Linked DNA regions of Homo sapiens: region 2 is linked to region 1. Evidence: fine-mapped QTL for protein levels in blood plasma. A gene starts in region 1. The other region holds a variant in brackets. All regions are shown on one strand. Distances are between the middles of the regions. Region 1 holds the start of ADA (adenosine deaminase). Region 2 holds the start of LINC01260 (long intergenic non-protein coding RNA 1260).

Region 1 (5,364 bases):
TCCCACGGGACACTGACCATACAGGGGTATAGGGACCGAGGCCCTTTGTTTTGGGTTAAATGAAGGTTACTAGGTGGAGATGGTTGGGAGAAGGTGTTAAATGAAAATGCTACATAAACTGCATGATTTGCAAGTGGTTGCGGTTCTTCTGCTCAGTCTGCCGCCACTGGACTCTCTTCCCTGTGTCTAAGCCCCCAGTAAAACCCCGTATCTTGTTTGCTACCTCTTCCAAAGAAGGTAGCCTCTTGAACCTGGTGCTATATCCATTGGAGTCAATAGGGGTCCCGCACAACAGAAGGCAGCTGCCTAGGGCCTTGCTAAGCAAAGTGTGTTCCTGGATCGTTGACATTAGCATTTCCTGGGAGCTGGTCAGCAGTGCAGCATCGCAGGCCCCAACCCGACCCACACAGAATCACAGTGTGAACATTAAAAGTCAGGCCACTTGAGTGCAGTTTGAAAAGCGCTGCCCTGCTCTGCTTTCTTCTAGCTGACCAGGTCCCAGGCCTCAGCTGGTGGCAGGTATGAGAAGCTGAAGGACACAGCAAAGGCTCCTGTCTCAGGAGGTTTGCACCTGGGGCACTGGCACCTCTATCCCCAAAGGCTTCTGCAGAGGTAGTTTAGGAAAGATGGTTAGAGGCATGGGATTTCGAAGCCAGCCTCCCTTGGACTCAAACCCCAGATTGGACATTTCCTAGCTGTGTGATCTTGGGCCTAGTTAACCTCTCTGTGCCTGGATTAAATAAAAAATGCAGATAATGTGTTTAGAACGGTGCCTGGCACAGAAACATCAACACTCCATTAGCTGCAGCTAGTAATGCTAATAATTATAACTGTCATCTGTCCCTCCCACAAGAGGGCAGGGAGCTGGCTCTGGTCACAGTGGCTCTGAGATTCACACTCCTTCCCACTTCTCCTGCCAGCTCACACAAGTTCCTCCTCACAATCATACAAGATTTGTCACGCCTCAAACACATGGCAGGTAACATTCTACCTTCACTCTCAAGCATCACCTTGTGGCCTTGGGACTCAGGACACGGGACACCCACATAAGCAGCTGATGTTCCATCCTCCAGGTGTGGACACTGAGGTCCCAATAGGGAAAATGATCTGCCAGCTTGAATCAGATGGGAGGACTGAGCAAGGCCAAAAAATGGGGATAATAATATGAGCCCCTCCCTTGATGGGCTGTTACAGAAGAACTGCAAGGATCCAATGGGTGTCTGCAACAAGTGCTCTAGAAGTGGGCCCTGCTGTTCTCTCCATAACTCCCAACATGTTCGCAATCAAGGAGCCTTTTTTTTTTTTTTTTTTTTTTTGAGACAGCGTCTCACTCTGTCACCCAGGCTGGAGTGCAATGGCGAGATCTCGGCTCACTGCAAGCTCCACCTCCTGGGTTTATGCCATTCTCCTGCCTCAGCCTTCTGCGTAGCTGGGACTACAGGCGCCCGCCACCATGCCCAGCTAATTTTTTATATTTTTAGTAGAAATGGGGTTTTGCCATGTTGGCCAGGCTGGTCTCGAACTCCTGGCCTCATGATCCACCCACCTTTGCCTCCCAAAGTGCTGGGATTATAGGCGTGAGCCACTGCACCCCGCCAATCAAAGAGCTTTGCTATTGCCATAGGATTCACATCAGGGTACAGTGGGTCCCCAGCCCAAGGGCAGAGGGAGCCCAGAGCATTTAATAAAAAGACTGCAAAGGGGAGGCGCCAATCATGGGCCCCAGCTCCAGTAAGACGTGAAGGAGGCAGGGGTGGGGGTAGGAGGGCTTGTACAGCACCTCAGTGCTTCCAGCTTCTGACGGGGAGTAGCTGAGCATTTTCCCTGGGCTGGGGGCATCAGTAGTGGGGGCCAGGCCTCACCCTCCTCAGAAGGTAGGTGGGCTCTCCACAGCCTGTCTCCCTCACTGACACATGCACACTCACTGGATTCTCACCGGCACTTTTGTGATAGCTGTCATCATCATTCACACCTATTTCTTTTCTTTTCTTTTTCTTCTCTTTTTTTTGAGACAGGGTCTCGCTCTGTCTCCCAGGCTGAAGTGCAGTGGCACCATCACACCTCACTGCAGCCTCAACCTCCTGGGCTCAAGCGATCCTCCCGCCTCAGCCTCCTGAGTAGCTGGGACTACGGGAGTGCACCACCACACACACTTCCCCTAACTTTTTTTATTTTTTGGAGAGACGGGGTCTAGTTTTGTTGTCCAGGCTAGTCTCAAACTCCTGGACTCAAATGATCCTCCCGCCTCAGCCTCACAAAGTGCTGGGATTACAGGCGTGAGCCAACCTCCTGGGCCACTCACACCTATTTCTTAGAAGGGTAAGTTGAGGCTGACTGCAGCTGACTCCTTCCCCAACCACTCTCACACCCTACTGGCTGACTCACCCTGCTTGGCAGACTCCTGGGCCCCTCCTCTCGGACTCTGCGACAGGCCAAGGGGGTCCAGACCCTCCCTGACCCCAACAGTCCCAAGACGCCACAGCTGGTGGGCGGAGAAACAAGGGGATTCTCCCCTGGGGCCAGTGGCCATGGCTTGGCCTCGAGTGAACCCTGCTAGGGCCCCAAACCCAGGGCCTACCTAGCTCCTGTTCTTCCCGCGCGGGGGAAGGGGGGTGCTCTGCTCCCCTCCCTCCCCTTTCTGGCAGGGCTCACGGTTCTTCCCCGGGGCGCATCCACAAACCTGAGCTCCTTGGCGCTCACCACCATAACGCTGGCGTACAAAGCTGCTTCCATTCACTGAGCACTCAGTAGGCGCCGGGCACAGCACTAGGTGCCTATCCGGCGTAGACATCGGGCCTGATCATACAGCTGAGCTTCAGAGACCTCAAGTCCCTGCCCAGGCCCACACAGCGCTCAGCGGTGCTAGGATGCCCACTTGACAGACAGCGAAACTGAGACCCAGAGGGGTCAAGTCAGGGGCAGAAGCAGACTCTGGAGGCCTCCGGGTTCTGGACCTTCTCTGCCCCATTGTCCCTGATTAGCCCGCAAGCAAGCCACGGCCTAAGCCGAAGGAAGAACTCGCCTGCAGGAGCCCCCGTTCGTTCCCAGGGTTTGGACGCCCCGGGCTGGGCCCCGCTAAGCCCCTCGGGCCGCCCAGGCGCCGGACCCCCGTCCCCGGAGCCCCCGCGCGCGCTCACTTTGGGCTTGTCGAAGGCGGGCGTCTGGGCCATGGTGCCCTCGTGCGCCCCGGCGCTGCTCCCTCCGCCGCCGCTCGGTGGGTCTCTGCCGGCTCGGTGGCCGCTCGGCTTTCCCTGGGGCCAGCGGTGGCCGCGGCCGGCCACGCTCTTCTTAACGGGCCGGGCCCCGCCTCCCGCCCCGCCCGCCGCCGTTCCCGGGGCCCGCCCTCTCGCCGGAGCCCCCGCCCCGCCCGCCGGCCTGGATCGCGCATTTCCTGGAATTCTGGACCCGGCGTCCTCGCCCGCCGACCCGAAAACTACGGCCCCGCGGCGCCCGACCGGACCCACCTGTGGGCGCGCGCTCCAGCCGCCTCGCTGGGCGCTGCCTTCCCCCCGGCTCCTCCAGCAACTTTCAAGCGTCCCCCTGCAGTCTGGGCGCTGCTGTGCGCCAGGCCCAAGCTAGAAGCGGGGACCCCGGGAGCATCGCAAGCCTCGAGCGGCGTGCCTTCCACCGGATAGACGGACGCTCGTCGCAGAAACACACACCATAATTGTATAGTTAAGGAACTTTCGAGGGGGGCCAGCCGTGGCCTGCAGAACCTGCAGGAGTTCATCAGGGGTGGGTGGGGGTGGAGAGGACATTCTACGTGAGAGACTCCAGGGAGCTGGGAGTGAAAGGAGGCGAGGAAGGCTGGAGCTCGGAGGGAGGGAGAACACAGACAGTCCCCTCCTGGGCATTCACCTTTAAGAAACCCGCCCAGGCGCAGCCAGAGACCTGTGCAGAATGTTCACACCAGCGCTATTCCGAATAACAGGAACATTGGAAACACCCTCAAATGCCCCTCCACGGGCGAGTGGGCAAATAAACCGGAATATTCACACCATGAAACGTTAGACAGCAGTGAAACGGAATGAACTTCAGCCAGACAACAACAGAAACAATGTCTCAGAAACAATGTTGAGTGAAAAAAACTAAGTTGCGGAAAACTGCATACAATGGTGCAACTTTTAGAATGTGTAAAAGCAAAACCAAAAGTATGTATGTTTAGACACATGCATCGGTGGAAAAAATGTAAAGCAAGGGAAAGATGAGCATAGATACGAGAAGAGTGGTTATCTCAGGTGAAAGGGAAGGAGCCGGGAGGAGGTAAGGACGGAGGGAAATAACACGCGGGTACAGGTTATTTATTTATTTATTTATTTATTTATTTATTTATTTATTTATTTACTGAGACGGAGTTTCGCTCTTTCGCGGAGGCTGCAGTGAAGTGGCGCGATCTGGGCTCACTGCAACCTCTGCCCCTCTGGCCCGCCTCCTCCCCACCGCTCCCCCGCACCCCCAGCGTTTCAAGCGATTTTCCTGTCTCAGCCTCCCGAGTAGCTGGGATTATAGGCGCCCACAACCACGCCTGGCTAATTTTTGTTTTTTGTTTTTTTGTTTTTGTTTTTGTTTTTTTGAGATGGACTCTTGCTCTGTCGCCCAGGCTGGAGTGCAGTGGCGAAATCTCGGCTCACTGCAACCTCCACCTCCTGGATTTTAAGCAGTTCTCGGCCTCAGCGTCCCGAGTAGCTGGGATTACAGGCGCGTGGCACCGTGCCCTGCTAAGTTTTGGATTTGTAGTAGAGACGGGGTTTCACCATGTTGGCCAGGCTGGTCTCGAACACCTGACCTCACATGATCCACCCACCTCGGCTTCCCAAGGCGTGATTACAGGCATGAGCCACCACGCCTGGCCACACACAGGTTATTGATAATGTTCCAGTACTGGGGTGGATGGTAGCTTCATTTCATTTCATCATAAATAAATTAACAAACCCATAAACAAGGGGGAAAGAGAGAGTGGGAGAGTGGAGAGCAAGGGGCTAGAAGGTCTGATGGGAGCTGAATCCTGCCAGGGATGTGGGACCCAGCGATGGTGTGGGATTCCTAGGAAGTCAGTGGAGTGTTTTAAGTGGAGGCGAGACAAAATCACCCTTTTATTTGGAAAAAATATTCTCCAGCTACTGAAAGTGTGATCCAGGGATCATCAGCACCCACATCACCTGGGAGCTGACTACAAATGCAGACTTTCAGACCCCATCCCAGACCTACTGAAGTAGAATCTGTATTTTATACAAACAGGACCCCCAGGTGGTTCGCACCCACAGGGCACTTTGAGAAGCCTGGGCTCCCTGCTGTGAGGGGAGGGCATTACAGGGGGCCAGCGGGGGTGAGGGAGGACAGGATACCAGGAAGGAGGCAACTGCC
Region 2 (5,364 bases), 21 kb after region 1:
GAGATTAGATGATTTATAAGGTTTTATTAAAATTAGGCTTTATATTTATAATGCATTGATGCAAAAGTAGAATCATTTTTCTATTTTGAACTAGATAGTCACATAGTTTTTTTTTTGTTCTTTTTTTTTTTTTTTTTTGAGATGGAGTCTCGTTCTGTCACCTAGGCTGGAGTGCAGTGGCGTGATCTCGGCTCACTGTGACCTCCACCTCCTGGATTCAAGTGATTCTCCTGCCTCAGCCTCCTGAGTGGCTGGGATTATTGGCATGCGCCTCCATGCCAGGCTAATTTTTGTATTTTGAGTAGAGAAAAGGTTTTGCCATGTTAACCAGGCTAGTCTTGAACTCCTGATCTCAGGGTGATCCGCCTGCCTTGGCCTTCCAAAGTGCTGGGATTGCAAGCGGGAGCCACCGCACCCTGCCTCATATAGTATTAATAAGAGATAGCAAAAGATTTTTTTGTTTACCTTTTGAGTAAACTGCTGCTAAAAAAAAAAAAAAGGAGAAAAGAAACGGGGGAGAGGGAGAGACATTCTGTTGGTCTCAAGTTGTCTTTTTCAGGTCTTTTGTGTCAGGCCTCTGAGCCCAAGCTAAGCCGTCATATCCCCTGTGACCTGCATGTATACATCCAGATGGCCTGAAGCAACTGAAGATCCACAAAAGAAGTGAAAATAGCCTTAACTGATGACCTTTCACCATTGTGATTTGTTTCTGCCCCACCCTAACTGATCAATGTACTTTATAATCTCCCCCCACTTAAGAAAGTTCTTTGTAATCTCCCCCACCCTTAAGAAAGTTCTTTGTAATTCTCCCCACCCTTGAGAATGTACTTTGTGAGATCCACCCGCTGCCCACAAAACATTGCTCCTAACTCCACTGCCTATCCCAAAACCTGTAAGAACTAATGATAATCCCACCACCCTTTGCTGACTCTCTTTTCGGACTCAGCCCGCCTGCATCCAGGTGAAATAAACAGCCTTGTTGCTCACACAAAGCCTGTTTGGTGGTCTCTTCACACAGATGCGTGTGACATTTGGTGCTGAAGACCCGGGTCAGAGGGACTCCTTCGGGAGACCAGTCCCCTGTCCTCACCCTCACTCCGTGAAGAGATCCACTTACGACCTCGGGTCCTCAGATCAACCAGCCCAAGGAACATCTCACCAATTTCAAATTGGGTAAGTGGTCTTTTCACTCTCTTCTCCAGCCTCTCTTGCTACCCTTCAATCTCTCTGTCCTTCCAATTCCAGTTCTTTTTCCTCTCCAGTAGAGACAAAGGAGACACATTTTATCCGTGAACCCAAAACTCCAGGGCCGGTCACAGACTCAGGAAGACAGTCTTCCCTTGCCATTTAATCACTGCGGGGACGCCTGCCTGATTATTCACCCACATTCCATTGGTGTCCGATCACCGCAGGGACGCCTGCTTTGGTCATTCACCCACATTCCCTTGGTGGCAAGTCAATTGCGGGGACGCCTGCTTTGGCTGCTCACCCACATTGCAGCCCAGGGCTGCTCCCCACCCCCTTCTCCATATCTCTACCCTTCTCTTTAAACTTGCCTCCTTCACTATGGGCAAACTTCCACCCTCCATTCCTCCTTCTTCTCCCTTAGCCTATGTTCTCAAGAACTTAAAACCTCTTCAACTCTCACCTGACCTAAAATCTAAGCATCTTATTTTCTTCTGCAACACCACTTGGCCCCAATACAAACTAACAATGGTTCTAAATGGCCAGAAAATGGCACTTTTCATTTCTCCGTCCTACAAGACCTAGATAATTTTTGTTGAAAAATGGGCAAATGGTCTGAGGTGTCTTACGTCCAGGCATTTTTCACACTTCGTTCCCTCCCTAGTCTCTGTTCCCAATGCGACTCGTCCCAAATCCTCCTTCTTTCCCTCCCACCTGTCCCTTCAGTCCCAACCCCAAGCGTCGCTGAGTCTTGTGAATCTTCCTTTTCTACTGAACCATCTGACGTCTCACCTTCTTCCCAGACTGCTCCTCCTCAGCTCGCTCCCCACCAGGCTGAATCAGCCTCCAACTCTTCTTCAGCCTCTGCTCCCACATCCTATAACCCTTCTATTACCCGCCCTCCCCACACCCAGTCTGGTTTTCAGTTTCGTTCTGCGGCTAGCTCTCCCCCACCTGCCCAACAATTTCCTCTTAGAGAGGTGGCTGGAGCTGAAGGCATAGTCAGGGTACATGTGCCTTTTTCTCTATCAGACCTTTCCCAAATCAGCCAGCATTTAGGCTCTTTCTCATCAGACCCCACTAAATATATACAGGAATCCCGATATCTAACTCTGTCCTACAGTTTAACCTGGAGTGACTGAAATGTCATCCTGACTTCTACCCTCTCCCCAGATGAAC[G/A]GGAAAGAGTTTTTTCTCTAGCCCAATCTCACGCTGATAACCGCCGGCTTCATGAACCTGACCTCCAGGAAGGCAGTAGAGCAGTTCCCCGAGAGGACCCCCAATGGAACTATCAGGCAGATTCCCCAGGTATGGCTAGGCGAGATTACATGGTTTCCTGCCTAGTTGAAGGGCTTAAAAAGGCAGCTTACAAAGCTGTTAATTATGACAAACTTAGAGAAACTACCCAAGGTAAAGACGAAAACCCAGCTCAGTTCATGGCCCGCTCGGCAGCAACCCTTACACACTTTACCGCCCTAGACCCAGAGGGGCCAGAAGGCCGCCTTATTCTTAATATGCATTTTATCACCCAGCTCCTGACATTAGAAAAAAGCTTTAAAAATTGGAATCCGGCCCTCAAACCCCACAACACGAATTAATCAACCTCCCCTTCAAAGTGTACAATAATACAGAGGAGGTAGCCAGGCAGCAACGCATTTCTGAGTTACAGCTGCTCGCCTCCGCTGTAAGACAGCCCACAACCACGTCTCCAGCATACAAGAACTTCAGAACATCCAAGCCACAGCTCCCAGGGGCTCCTTCAAAACATCCTCGTGGACCTTGCTTCAAATGCTAAAAGCCTGGCCACTGGGCCTCAGAATGCCCGCAGCCCGGGATTCCTCCTAAGCCGTGCCCTGTCTGTGCGGGCCCCCGCTGGAGGTCGGACTGTCCGACTCACATCACTGCCACTCCTAAAGCCCCTGGAGCCCAAACCCTATGTTCCTTGGCCGACTCCTTCCCAGATCTCCTCGGCTTAGCAGCTGAAGACTGACGTAGCCCGATCGCCTCAGAAGCCTCCTGGACCATCACAGACGCTGAGCTTCGGGTAACTCTTAAAGTGGAGGGTAAGTCCATCCCGTTTAATCGATATGGGGGCTACCCACTCCACATTATCTTCTTTTCAAGGGCCTGTTTCCCTCGCCCCCATAACTGTTGTGGGTATTGATGGCCAAGCTTCAAAACCCCTTAAAACTCCCCCACTCTGGTGCCAACTTGGACAACGTTCTTTTATGCACTCTTTTTCAGTTATCCCCACCTGCCCAGCTTCCTTATTAGGCTGAGACATTTTAACCAAATTATCTGCTTCCCTGATTATTCCTGTACTACAGCCACATCTCATTGCCCCCTTCTTCCCAACCCAAAGCCTCCTTTGGGTCTTCCTCTCATATCCCCCGACCTTAACCCACAAATATGGGACACCTCCACTCCCTCCCTGGCAACCAATCACATGCCCATTACTATCCCATTAAAACCTAATCACGCTTACCCCACTCAATGCCAGTATCACATCCCACAACAGGCTTTAAGGGGATTAAATCCTGTTATCACTTGCCTGCTACAGCATGGGCTTCTAAAACCTATAAACTCTCCTTACAATTCTCCCATTTTACCTGTTCAAAAACCGGACAAGTCTTACAGGTTAGTTCAGGATCTGTGCCTTATCAACCAAATTGTTTTGCCTATCCACCCTGTGGTGCCCAACCCGTACGCTCTTTTGTCCTCAATATCTTCCTCCACAACTCACTATTCCATTCTTGATCTTTAAAATGCTTTTTTTCACTATTCTCCTACACCCCTTGTCCCAGCCTCTCTTTGCTTTTACCTGGACCGATCCTGACACCCATCAGTCCCAGCAGCTTACCTGGGCTGTACTGCCGCAAGGCTTCAGGGCCAGCCCTCATTACTTCAGCCAAGCTCTTTCTTATGATTTACTTTCTTTCCACCCCTCTGCTTCTTGCCTTATTCAATATATTGATGACCTTCTACTTTGTAGCCCCTCCTTTGAATCTTCTCAACAAGACACCCTCCTGCTCCTTCAACATTTATTCTCCAAGGGATATTGGGTATCCCTGTCCAAAGCTCAAATTTCTTCTCCATCCATTACCTACCTCAGCATAATTCTTCATAACAACACATGCGCTCTCCCTGCGGATCGTGTCCGACTGATCTCTCAAACCCCAGGCCCTTCTACAAAACAACAACTCCTTTACTTCCTGGGCGTGGTTGGATACTTTTGTCTTTGGATACCTGGTTTTGCCATCCTAACAAAACCATTGTATAAACTCACAAAAGGAAACCTAGCTGACTCCATAGATTCTCAATCCTTTCCCCACTCCTCTTTCTGTTCCTTGAAGACAGTTTTAGAGACTGCTCCCACACTAGCTCTCCCTGGCTCATCTCAACCCTTTTCATTACACGCAGCCGAAGTGTAGGGCTGTGCAGTTGGAATTCGTACACAAGGACTGGGACCGCACCCTATAGGCTTTTTGTCCAAACAACTTGACCTTACTGTTTTAGGCTGGCTATCATGTCTCCATGCGGTGGCCGCTGCTGCCCTAATACTTTTGGAGGCCCTCAAAATCACAAACTATGCTCAACTCACTCTCTACAGTTCTTATAACTTCCAAAATCTATTTTCTTCCTCACACCTGACACATATACTGTCTGCTCCCCGGCTCCTTCAGCTGTACTCACTCTTTGTTGAGTCTCCCACAGTTACCATTGTTCCTGGCCCGGACTTCAATCCAGCCTCCCACATTATTCCTGATACCACACGTGACCCCCATGACTGTATCTCTATGATACACCTGACATTCACTCTATTTCCCCACATTTCCTTCTTTCCTGTTCCTCACCCTGATCACACCTGGTATATTGATGGCAGTTCCACTAGGCCTAATCGCCACACACCAGCAAAGGCAGGCTATGCTATAGTATCTTCCACATCTATCATTGAGGCTACCACTCTGCCCACCTCCACTACCTCTCAGCAAGCTGAACTCATTGCCTTAACTCGAGCCCTCACTCTTGCAAAGGAACTACGCACTACGCATCAATATTTATACTGACTCTAAATATGCCTTCCATATCCTGCACCACCATGGTGTTAAATGGGCTGAAAGAGGTTTCCTCACTACGCAAGGGTCCTCCATCATTATTGCCTCTTTAATAAAAACTCTT

The links. A credible set is the group of variants that fine-mapping cannot tell apart. PIP is the posterior inclusion probability: the model's chance that the variant is causal. Protein levels are from antibody-based Olink assays in UK Biobank. Linkage for the fine-mapping came from a reference panel and not from the study's own genotypes, which makes the PIPs less certain.
Region 2: its variant is the best candidate, but not a certain one, in a credible set for the plasma level of the ADA protein (UK Biobank, PIP 0.78).

The regions. Positions count from the first base shown.
Region 1 is chr20:44,648,438-44,653,801 of GRCh38, forward strand. It overlaps ADA (adenosine deaminase), which reads right to left and starts at 3,262. Exons shown (of 12, transcript NM_000022.4): 1 at 3,138-3,262. The coding sequence starts at 3,170. RefSeq lists enhancers at 1-121, 2,711-2,820, 3,051-4,034 and a silencer at 3,071-3,460.
Region 2 is chr20:44,669,662-44,675,025 of GRCh38, forward strand. LINC01260 (long intergenic non-protein coding RNA 1260) reads right to left here and starts at 2,078. Exons shown (of 5, transcript NR_034104.1): 1 at 1,978-2,078. RefSeq lists enhancers at 817-1,318, 1,319-1,818. The variant G/A (reference allele first, on the strand shown) is at 2,365.